Linked DNA regions of Homo sapiens: region 1 is linked to region 2. Evidence: fine-mapped expression QTL. Tissue or cell type: regulatory T cells. Region 2 holds a variant in brackets; the other region holds the start of a gene. All regions are shown on one strand. Distances are between the middles of the regions.

Region 1 (5,522 bases), 62 kb after region 2:
TCATGCCTGTAATCCTAGCACTTTAGGAGGCTGAGGCCAGAAGATCGCTCGAGAGCAGGAGTTTGAGACCAGCCTGAGAAACATAGCAAGACCCCATCACTACAAAAGAAAAATTTAAAAGTTAGCTGGGTGTGATGATGCACACCTTAAGTCTCAGCTACTCAGGAGGCTGGTGGGAGGATCGCCTGACCCCAAGTAGTCATGGCACCATCATGCAGAGAGCCGTGATTGTGCCACTGCACTCCAGCCTGGCTGACAGAGTGAGACCCTGTTCCCACCACTCTCTCCCCAAAAAAAAGATAAAGAAAAAAGAAGGAAGAGGAAAGGATGAAGGTGAAGCGGAGGAAAAGGAAGGATTAAAGACAAAGATGATGGCAATGACAGGGGAGTTGGTTCTAGCAGTTTTCCTTGTCTGTAAAGCATTTAATTCTCCTGTGCACAACTCGTTTCTTTTGAATAAATAATAAGAAACCTGAAATAGCAGACTGTGTATTTATTTTTGACTAAGTCTTCATTTAAGTAAAAAGAATAAAAGGTTTTTTAGATTCCTAATGCTAATAATGCTTAATAGGCCCAAGTACCTAGTCTTTAACATTTATTTCTCTAACTGCACTACCCCCACTTTGAAATATTTTGTTTATACCATCACTCCCTACACCCCAAAATTAAAAACACACGTTTCCAGGGCCTGTTTTTATTTTTTTGTTTTTGTTTTGTTTTGTTTTTGCCAGCTAGATTAACTAGAACTGGACCGAGAGAAAGTCCTCACACCTGAGTTCCTTTCTCAACTCTCCACCAACTGAACCGGGATGGAAACAGACTAGTGAAGTTCTTTCAGTTCCCTTAAAGGTACTTTGAGGTATATAGCAGGTATCTGAAGAATGGCCAGTTTACTCTAACACTCTTTGGTGGGCAAAGTACGAAAACTGAAAGACAGCCTAAAGGATTCCATTAAGAAAAAAGAGAAAAAATAGCCTAATAAAATATAGGTGTCGGAGGACCAATTGTGCAAAAGAGAATCAAGCTGGAGCTCCCTATTTTGCAGGAGCTGGGGCTGCACAGGGTGGAGGGATATAACGATTCTCTAGACTTCTCAAGACTGCCTTTAAAAAACTACCTCAACTTCGACTTCTAATCAATGATCTTGCAGCAAGTTTGTATCTGACCTGGAATTAGAAACAGCTTCAGATCCCTACTAAGCAAGTTTGCTTCGGGGTGGGTAGGGGTCTCACCCAATTACCAAGTCTGTAAGCTGATTCCCAGCACTTCCTATCTATCATCTGAGTAAAATAAATATAAGTGGAAGGCAAGAGTTCTATAAACATTGGGTATCACCACTGTATTTTAAGGTAGAGTGACAGGTGTCCTGTAGAGTCCCTGTAATCACCGGTAACTCTTCAAAAACTTCACGGAGGTTGTATTAGTATTTCCTGACTTGCTCCCGCTGACACATGCCTCCAAGGTCAGCTGGACCAGTGCTACTCATCACCGCAGTGCAGCTAACTGGACGGCCCACCGGAGGCGTGGACTCCTCGGGAACAGGCAGCTTGCTATGAGCCCCCGGCCAGGTCAGTGCATCTCTCTGGCCCTGTTTTCTTATCCCGACTTTCCCCGCTGAGAAAATAACGTGGCCGGCCAGAGGCTGGGGGCGCCGCGTGACCAGGGCTCACCTGTGTCCATCCTCCAGCTGCTGGCACAGCGTGGGCTCCAGCTCCAGCAGGCAGAAGTCGCCGGCTGCAGCGCCGCTGGCCCCAGGGCCGAAGCCCAGGCAGTGCACCGCCGGCAGCAGCTCGGCCGCATTCAGCTTGGCGATCTGCAGCGTCGCATCCACCTCGTCGCGGGTCCTCTTCATCGCAGCGCCGGGTCTAGGAGTCCCGCCGCGCCCGGGTGGCTGCGGGCTTGGCGGGCAAGAAAGAAGTTCCCAAGCAGCCGGAAGGTAGGAAACCTGAGCGTTTGAAAGCGCGCCAAGGCGGCCATGGGCGTGTTTCCGGGGCGGAGCGCGCTGCGGGCCCGCCCGCGGGAAGGCCTGCCGGCTTCTGGGAGCGCGAGCCCCTCCGTGCCCCACGCCGGACCGCGACTGCAGGAAGGAAACGCGGCTTCCCGGGGGGCGGTCTCGGCGGAAGCTCGCAGGGGCAGAGCTGCGACTCGGCGGGTTGGGACACGGATCCCTCGCCCACCCTTTCCGCTGTCCCCTTGCCCGCCCCCCATCCCCGATCTCCGTCCCTGGTTTCCAGCCGATGCTCCCATTTCCTCGCCGTCCACATTGTCTCACCTTCCGCCAGTGGCGGGCCCTGTGATAACCACTTGGCATGTATAATTCCATGAGCCCGTTGCCACAACCCTGTAAGGTGGTGCCTTGGTCATTCCCTTTTGCCAATGAGGAAGCAGGCTCCTTGCTCGTGATGGCAGAGTCAGGAGGTAACAGAGTCTGACTCCAGCCTAGCCGACTGTGGCTCTAAAAGCTTCCTGCGGGGTTTTGTGCAAATAACCCATGCTCGGGAGCGAGGCCCTGGGAAGGAGTATCTCGCTTCTTTGGGTCAGGGCACCATCATATCTGGAGACAACGGCGGGACTAGTCTATTCGTTGAATACCTAGTGTTAACCGAAAAGTGACTGATGCAGGTCTCGTTCAATAGAGGTTTATTTAAGCAAGGTTGAGGACGCACCCGAAGGGAAAAACAAGTCACAGGAGCATCTGTGACTTGTACATTTTCCAAAGGTTTGGGGAACTTCAGTATTAAGAGTTTTAAGAGAAAAGGTTTTCACTATGCACACATACATGAATTGCTTGTAACAGCGTAATGTGTAAACTTTCCCAGAGATGCTTAGGGAATCGTTGAGGGCCCTGGCTGTCCCTGAGAGCTAAAATAGTCTGGGAGGAATCACTTAAGAGATGGTGACCTCCTACTAGTTAGTGCAAATCAGACCTTGCTTGAAGTGAAAGAAAGTGGTGGGTAAGGTGTTGAATTCAAAGGATCTGAGCAGACATTTTTTTCAATTCTTGGGTAAAATGATACGAAAATACCAGAGTAGGGCATCCCAGGAGTCTGGGCAGTGCTTTCGTTGGTGGTGGAAAGATTGGTTCATGTGACCTACTTCTTCACTAGCCTCTTTTACATTTGAATGCATAGGAATTCGGTGGAATGAAATCCTGAATGTGACAGTGGTTGCCTGATAAGAAGTTATTATTGAAGGGAATCAACCATTGTAGTTGCTCTATTAAATGGGAAACATTCCCTACAACTAGAAGCAGTGTCAACTAGAACCCTGACATTTACATCAGACAGGCATGGCTGCGAATCCCAACTCTCTTCAGAACTTTGTGACCTAAGGCAATTTACCTAATTTCTCTGAGTACAACTTCCTTATCGATAAAAAAGCACATAAGACCTACATTCTTAAGATGTACATTCTAAAATGCATGGCTGCTTAATAAATGGCAGCAGTTCTTTTTGTTTTTATGTATTAATCATTATGAATTTAATTTCCAATTAATGGTATGAAATTATTGCCATTAATTTGATATTCTGTCAGGGAGCTGGACCTGTGTTCCTCTCATAAGACAAAATGATGATAGTTTTTATTAATTCATTCTTTAAAATTATGTTAATATGTTTTTCTAAAGTAAGAAATTTTCTGTACCTTTTCAAAAAACGATTGAAGCTGGCTTAATCATTCATCTGGTAGCAGGAAAAAAATATTCTTTATCAGGTAAAAAAATGAACAGTTATAATAAATTTCAAAAGTTCTGTTCATGAGAACAGAATCAGCTAAAATTGATTCTGTTCTCTTGGACACTGTACTCTTGATTATATTGCTCATATATTGTGTTTCATGGCATGAAATGAGAATTTTATTTACTAAATCTTAGTTCATATTATAGAATCATGTATGAACTTTTTTCCTTTTCTTTTCCTCTCTTCTCTTCTTTTTTATTCAATAAAGAGCACAGTGACGGCCAGGTGCAGTGGCTCACGCCTGTAATGCCGACACTTTGGGAGGCCAAGGTGGGCAGATCACCTGAGGTCAGGAGTTCGAGACCAGCCTGGCCAACATGGCGAAACCCCGTCTCTACTAAAAGTACAAAAAAATTAGCCGGGCATGGTGGCAGGCGCCTGTAATCCCAGCTACTCTGGAGGCTGAGACAGGACAATCGCTTGAACCCAGGAGGCGGAGGTTGAAGTGAGCGGAGATCATGCCACTGCACTCCAGAGTGAGACTCTTGTCTCAAAAAAAAAAAAAAAAAAAAGGAACACAGTCACTTCCAGACATTCCAAAAACTGAAAATGTGGCCTTGCTTTCGGTCCTTATTCTTATTACTGTGACTTTCTAACAGATTTTCCTGCTTTTCATCCCCCTTCCCACTGCCCCTCCATCTGTATACCACAGTCAGATTAATTTTCTGAACATGAAGTTCTCTAGTGACATTACACTATGCTCACAGGTCATCATCAACCACTCCCTCTCCTGTCAAAGCTCATACTCAAACCTCTGCTGGTTTCTGGTTTTCTGTGCTTTGTGTCCGTTCTGCCTTTCCAGACTCCACGGCCCTGAGTACTCTTCACACACATGATAGCCAAACCTACAGATGGCCCCGTCCTTCCCTACTTTCGTGCTTGTGTGGCCAGGCATGTTTAATTTCAGCCATCATTTACACATTATTATTATTATTATTATTATTATTATTATTATTATTATTTGAAATGGAGTCTTGCTCTGTCACCCAGGCTGGAGTGCAGTGGCACGATCTCGGCTCACTTCTGCCTTCTGGGTTCAAGCGATTCTCATGCCTCAGCCTCCCGAGTAGCTGGAATTACAGGTGTGTGCCCCCATGCCCAGCTAATGTTTGTACGTTTAGTAAAGACGGGTTTTCGCCATGTTGGCCAGGCTGGTCCCGAACTCCTGACCTCAGGTGATGGTGATCTGCCCACCTTGGCCTCCTAAAGTGCTGGGATTACAGGTGTGAGTCACCGTGCCCAGCCCACATATAAATTAGAAAAGTTTTCATTAACATTTTCGTTTTTCGTCTTTTAAAAAAAATCAGGATATCTATCAACATGGGACTCATATTTCTGGATAGCAGCAGTAGGCTGGAGTTGCTAATTGTTTCTTCATAGTTCTCTTCAGGTCTGTGCCAGGCTCTCTCAATATGGAAACTTATATTATTCTTCAGTTCTGGGAAGTTTTATTATATGATTTCTTTGATAAGATCACCTCACCGCTACCCCATCCCAGATTTTTTTTTCTTTCTTTCCTTATTTTATTTCTTTTCTTTTTCTTTCTTTCTTTTCAGACAGGGTCTCACTCTGTTGCCCAGGCTTGAGTGCAGTGGCTCCATCTCAGCTCACTGTAACTTCTGCCTCCCAGGCTCAAGCTATCTTTTCACCTCAGCCTCCTAAGTAGCTGGGACTACAGGCACGGGAACCACCATGCCTGGCTAATTTTTGTATTTTTTTGTAGAGATGGGGTTTTGCCATGTTGGCCAGGCTGGTCTCGAACTCTGCGACTCAAGTGATCCACCT
Region 2 (5,000 bases):
TCTCAAGTAGTTGGGACCAGGCACCCACCACCACGCCTGGCTAATTTTTGTATTTTTTGGTAGAGATGTGGTTTTGCCATGTTGGTAGGCTGGTCTCAAACTCCTGAACTCTGGTGATCCACCTGCCCAGCGTCCCAAAGTGCTGGGATTACAGGCATGAGCCCCCGCGCTGGGCCAGAAGAATTTCTACATGATCACATACCTAGAAGAATTGCTGGATCTAAAAATTACCCATTCTACAATTCTGATTAGTACCACACTAAATTACCCATCAGAAACACTGTATCAAACTACACTCTCACAGTGTATGAGTGGTGCTATAGTTTGTTTGAATGATGGTGCCCCCTCCAAAATTCATGTTGAAACTTAAACCCCAACGCAACAGTCTTAAGAGGTGGCCTTTGGGAAGTGATTAAATCATCAGGGATCTACCCTCATGAATGGGATTAGCGCCCTCATAGAAAGGCTCCAGGTTGAAGGGAGCGTTCTCTTGCCCTGCCATCCCTTCCACCTTGTGAGGACACATTCTTTCCCGCTGGAGGATGCAGCAACTAGGTGCCAACTAGGTGCAGAGAGCAGCCCTCACCAGACACCAATCCTCCCAGTGCCTCAGTCTTGAACTTCCCAGCCTCCAGAACAAGAAGTAAATTTCTACTGTTTACATTATTACCCAGTCTGTGGTACTTTGGTATAGTAGAATAAACAAACTATGGCAAGTGGTATTATGCATCTCCTTCAAAATGTGGCATATTGGTTAAGGCAGGAGGATTGCTTGAGCCCAAGAGTTTGAGATCAGCCTGGGTAACAATGTGAGACCCCATTTAAAAAAAATTAAAAAAAAATTTTTAATGTGGCACATTAAAACTTCAGATACTTTATAATCAATCTGATATTTTAAAAATTATTTTTATATTTTACTTATTACTTCCAATCTTATGAGCTTTATGAGTCTGTAAGCTTTAGCAAAGAATAGCAATAAGAAAAAGGTTAAATAAATTCTGAGGTACAATGAAATACTATTTAGCTCTTAAATGGAATAATTGTTATATATAGTCAAGGTTTATAATATCATCTCTGAACAATAAACATACTTATCCTTCTCTTTTCCTCCACCAAATATGGGATGTAGTAAAACCCCACCAGTTTTTAGTTCATATGCCACTATTTTGTCTAGCTCCTAAAAAATATATAAAAATAGGAGTCAGTAAAATTTGTAAAGTAACATTTTTTTACATACCAAATTTTAGAATTAAACTGTGAATTCTCATTTCCTAAAATCAGAATGTAAATTTCTTAAAATAAGTGAAATGTATTTAAAGAGTAGTTTATGTTCTTATAAATAAAGCAGCCTACACAGCTGGCAGAATGACAAAAGCCAAAGACTTCTCTACTTTATGACTTCAGGGCTGGACAGCAGCCTGGCAACTTTTTCTTATGGCTGTTCTCAATCTCTCTGAGCTGTCTCCAAGTTTATTTTTCCTTCTCTGTATTTTGCTTCAAAAAATTTAGGCGAGTAAAAAGGAATGGGAATAAATTATGTCAGGAATCTATCATTTTAAAACTTCTCCAGTCTTCTCTAACATGACATAAATTGAACTTTTAAAAAGGGGGATTTTTTTTTTTAAACAGAAAAAAAAAGGGGGGGTTGGGGGCAGTTGTTTTGTTTTGTTTTGAGACAGGGTTTTACTCTGTCACCCAGGCTGGAGTTCAGTAGCTGATTATGGCTTACTGCAGCCTTGACTTCCTGGGCTTAGGTGATCCTCCCACCTCAGCCCAAGAAGCTGGAACTACAGGCACATGCCACCGTGCCTGGTTAATTAAAAGAAAAAAAGCATAAGTGAAGACGGGCGCAGTGGCTCACATCTGTAATCCCAGCACTTTGGGAGGCTGAGGCAAGTGGATCACGAGGTCAGAAGTTCGAGACCATCCTGGCCAACATGGTGAAATCCCGTCTCTACTAAAAATACAAAAAATTAGCCGGGCGTGATGGCGGGTGCCTGTAATCCCAGCTCTCAGGAGGCTAAGGTGGAAGAATCGCTTAAGCCCGGGAGGCAGAGGTTGCAGTGAGCCGAGATTGCGCCACTGCACTACAGCCTGAGCAACAGAGTGAGACTCCGTCTCAAAAAAAAAAAAAAGCATAAGTTAAAATAAAGACACTACCACAATTGTGCTGGAAACTCCTAACTGCTTTAAATAATACAGATGTAGTACAGAAAAGTGGCAAACAGCATAGAGAAGAAACTAAAAGCCAAGCTGGAATCCTGGGCCTACTACTTACTAGCTGTATACTTTGACCAAATAATTTAACCTTTCTTTCTGTTCCTCAGTTTCTTCATCTATAAAATGGGAATGATAGCAAGGTAGTTAGGAGAATTAAGATCATTTTAATATTTATAAAACATTTGTAACAGTGCGTGAAATATTTTAAGTGTTGTGTTACTTTGTTCTTCTTCTTTAATAGTTTCTGAAATAAAGAAGAGACTCCAGTTCTAGATGTACAAATACCTTAATAGCTCTAGGTGTTTGAAGTCTTCGAAAATTAACTTTTTGGCTTACTTGAGTTTACTCTTGGATGATAATAATATGTAAAATGAGAATACGGGGAAGATGATAAGGTTTGTTTAATGAAGATATGAAAGGCTGCAATTCTTCCACCTGAGAAGGAAGACACTAAGCATGATATGATTAAAATGTTTATGTATATGACCACAATGTGCTAAGTAAAATACAACTGATGTTTTCTTTTTGGCCAAATCTTTAAATCGT[T/TA]AAAAAAAAAAAAAAGATGTGACAATGACAACATAAATGCATTCAAAGCCTAGCCAGAATATAATAAGCAGTTAATATGTGCAAAGCATCATGCACATTACTTGTATAATGTCTAATAATCTCTGCCTATGGGCAGACACTACAATTGCCCTCCTTAAACAGAGACTTGGAAAGATTAAGGTTACAAAGCTAACAAATTTAGGAAGCACAGTTACAAACGACTACTATAAGGAGCTGGGACATACCTAACGACCAATCTGATGTTTAAGAAACTTAAATATTCTCTTCCTTAGGGGAAAAAAAGGTTTTTAGGGGCCAATGTTGACAATGGAGATTAGATAAAATAGACCATTAGTCTTTCTCAGTAAATCAATTCCCATTTTGCTGGGAAAAATTAGGGATTTTCAAGCAGTATTTTAAAAGTATTTTACAGTCATTAAAAATGGAGGACATAAGACTTGTAAGTGGATAAGGGATCTAGCTGTTATTACCTCTTTAATCCAATGGCGGTACTCATTAACACCAAAAGTTTTTTTCATCCAAAGTCCATAGATATAGCCTGAAATTCCCTTCAGCACCCATTCATCAGACCTAAGCAAAAAGTCAAAGCATAAATTACTTTTAATCATAAAAACTCCTCAGATAATGTCAAAGAGGATAACGGAATAAGTGTAGTGTGTATTTCCCTGCCTTCATAAAGAAAATGAAAATTATTAACAAATTATCAGGTTTCCCAACTTCCTCTGAGTTCTACTTGCCCATTTATTATACCTTATTCACACCTGCCTTTACCTTTCATTATGAGACTGCTTTACAGTCTTGCTTCAGGTATAAATTACCAGAGTACATGCTCTACTCTGACAGTGCTGCTTCCCTCCTGCCCAACTCTGTTCTTACTGTCTCTGCCTCTAAGGAAATACTTGCTCATAGCCAGGACTATACTGTTCAATTCTAAAAGTCTACATGCTATTATTGCCAATCCCATGCATTATGCCATTACCAATGATATTCTAAAACCTAAAGTTTAATTCCTTCATTCATTTTTTTTTGCTTTCTCTAGAAAAATGGCAATTAACATCACTCACTCATTTATTCATTTGTATACTCATCCATCTATCCATCTACCCACTCCATCCATCCATCCATCCATAATATTTTGCCTACTACATTCCAAGCACTATTCTTTAATGAAACTTCTACATGTGATTTTAGGAAAACTACAAATCAAGAGATCTATCTTTAGTCTCTGCCCTCTCCTCTCCACTCCAGCAAGCGAAAAAAGAAAACCAACATTTCCATACTATATATAGTATAGAATGTTCACAATTATAATCTTAATTTTTCTGTTTTCTTCAAAATAATCTCAAGTTAATAAAAAAGAAAAGAAAAAGCATATATACCTTTCATTTCTTTCAACAAACTGGTACAAAGCTGAGCACTAGTAGGCAAATCCCTAAATAATTATTAATATTGCAGAGGAGTACTATTTTACATTAAATATTGAGTTATTTCCAATTGCTTTGAACACTGACATTAAAATTCTAACTTCAGATTTCTGTACATTTAAGTTCTTTTATTTATAGAATTCATTCAGTTCTTTAAGACACTGTTTTACCAAAATCTTACCTTATAAACTGCAGAAGTGATTATATTGATTTCACGGCCAAAAAGTTAGGATAAAACTTATAATCATTTTTCTTTAAATACATATAGAACAGTGTCTTTTAAATTAGCTAATTTAATTAACTAATAAATATAAGTGACTATATTGATTTCATGGCCAAAAAGTTAGGATGAAACTTATAATCATTTTTCTTTAAATACATATAGAACAGTGTCTCTTAAATTAGCTATCTGCAATTAGGGCAAAGGTCAGCTTAAATGCAGAGAAAGAAAAGAAAAATAAACTTGATTCTCTTCTCAGTAGTATGAACTTTCAGGTCACTCACCAAGACATTCTAGATATGAAACAACCAAAAAACTGCTGGGCCAAGGATTGGGCTAAACACCTTCTAGTCAAAGGTGTCTCATCTATAATCATGGCACTGTGTAAAAGATTTGTGCTGGAATTTAAAAGAGAAGAAAGCTCATTATAACCAAGAAATAAATACTTATTCAGTGAAAATAAAATAATTCCACTTTTAAAACAATGGAAGCTAAATAGAGAAAAAATTCTCCCACCTTTCTAATCTTTTCAAAATTTAGCTAAAATTCATCATCTTAGTAACTTGCTT

Alleles and levels. Positions count from the first base shown, and alleles are read on the strand shown. Sizes are in standard deviations (SD) of each study's normalised expression.
For the expression in regulatory T cells of the gene that starts at base 1,951 in region 1, TA is the high allele of the variant in region 2 and T is the other (moderate effect, 0.71 SD a copy in Bossini-Castillo 2019).

Evidence for each region. PIP is the estimated chance that this variant, and not a neighbour inherited with it, causes the effect.
Region 1: it holds the start of DSCC1, and the variant in region 2 is fine-mapped to the expression of DSCC1 in regulatory T cells (Bossini-Castillo 2019, PIP 0.92).

The regions. Positions count from the first base shown.
Region 1 is chr8:119,853,944-119,859,465 of GRCh38, forward strand. It overlaps DSCC1 (DNA replication and sister chromatid cohesion 1), which reads right to left and starts at 1,951. Exons shown (of 9, transcript NM_024094.3): 1 at 1,671-1,951. The coding sequence starts at 1,852. LOC105375728 (a long non-coding RNA gene) reads left to right here. Exons shown (of 4, transcript XR_928590.3): 2 at 732-859; 3 at 1,463-1,936. RefSeq lists an enhancer at 1,623-1,932 and a silencer at 2,043-2,102.
Region 2 is chr8:119,792,275-119,797,274 of GRCh38, forward strand. It overlaps TAF2 (TATA-box binding protein associated factor 2), which reads right to left. Exons shown (of 26, transcript NM_003184.4): 8 at 4,716-4,829; 9 at 3,258-3,357; 10 at 1,092-1,177. Among named protein-coding and RNA genes, the nearest start is that of TAF2, 38 kb to the right of the region's middle. The variant T/TA (reference allele first, on the strand shown) is at 2,767.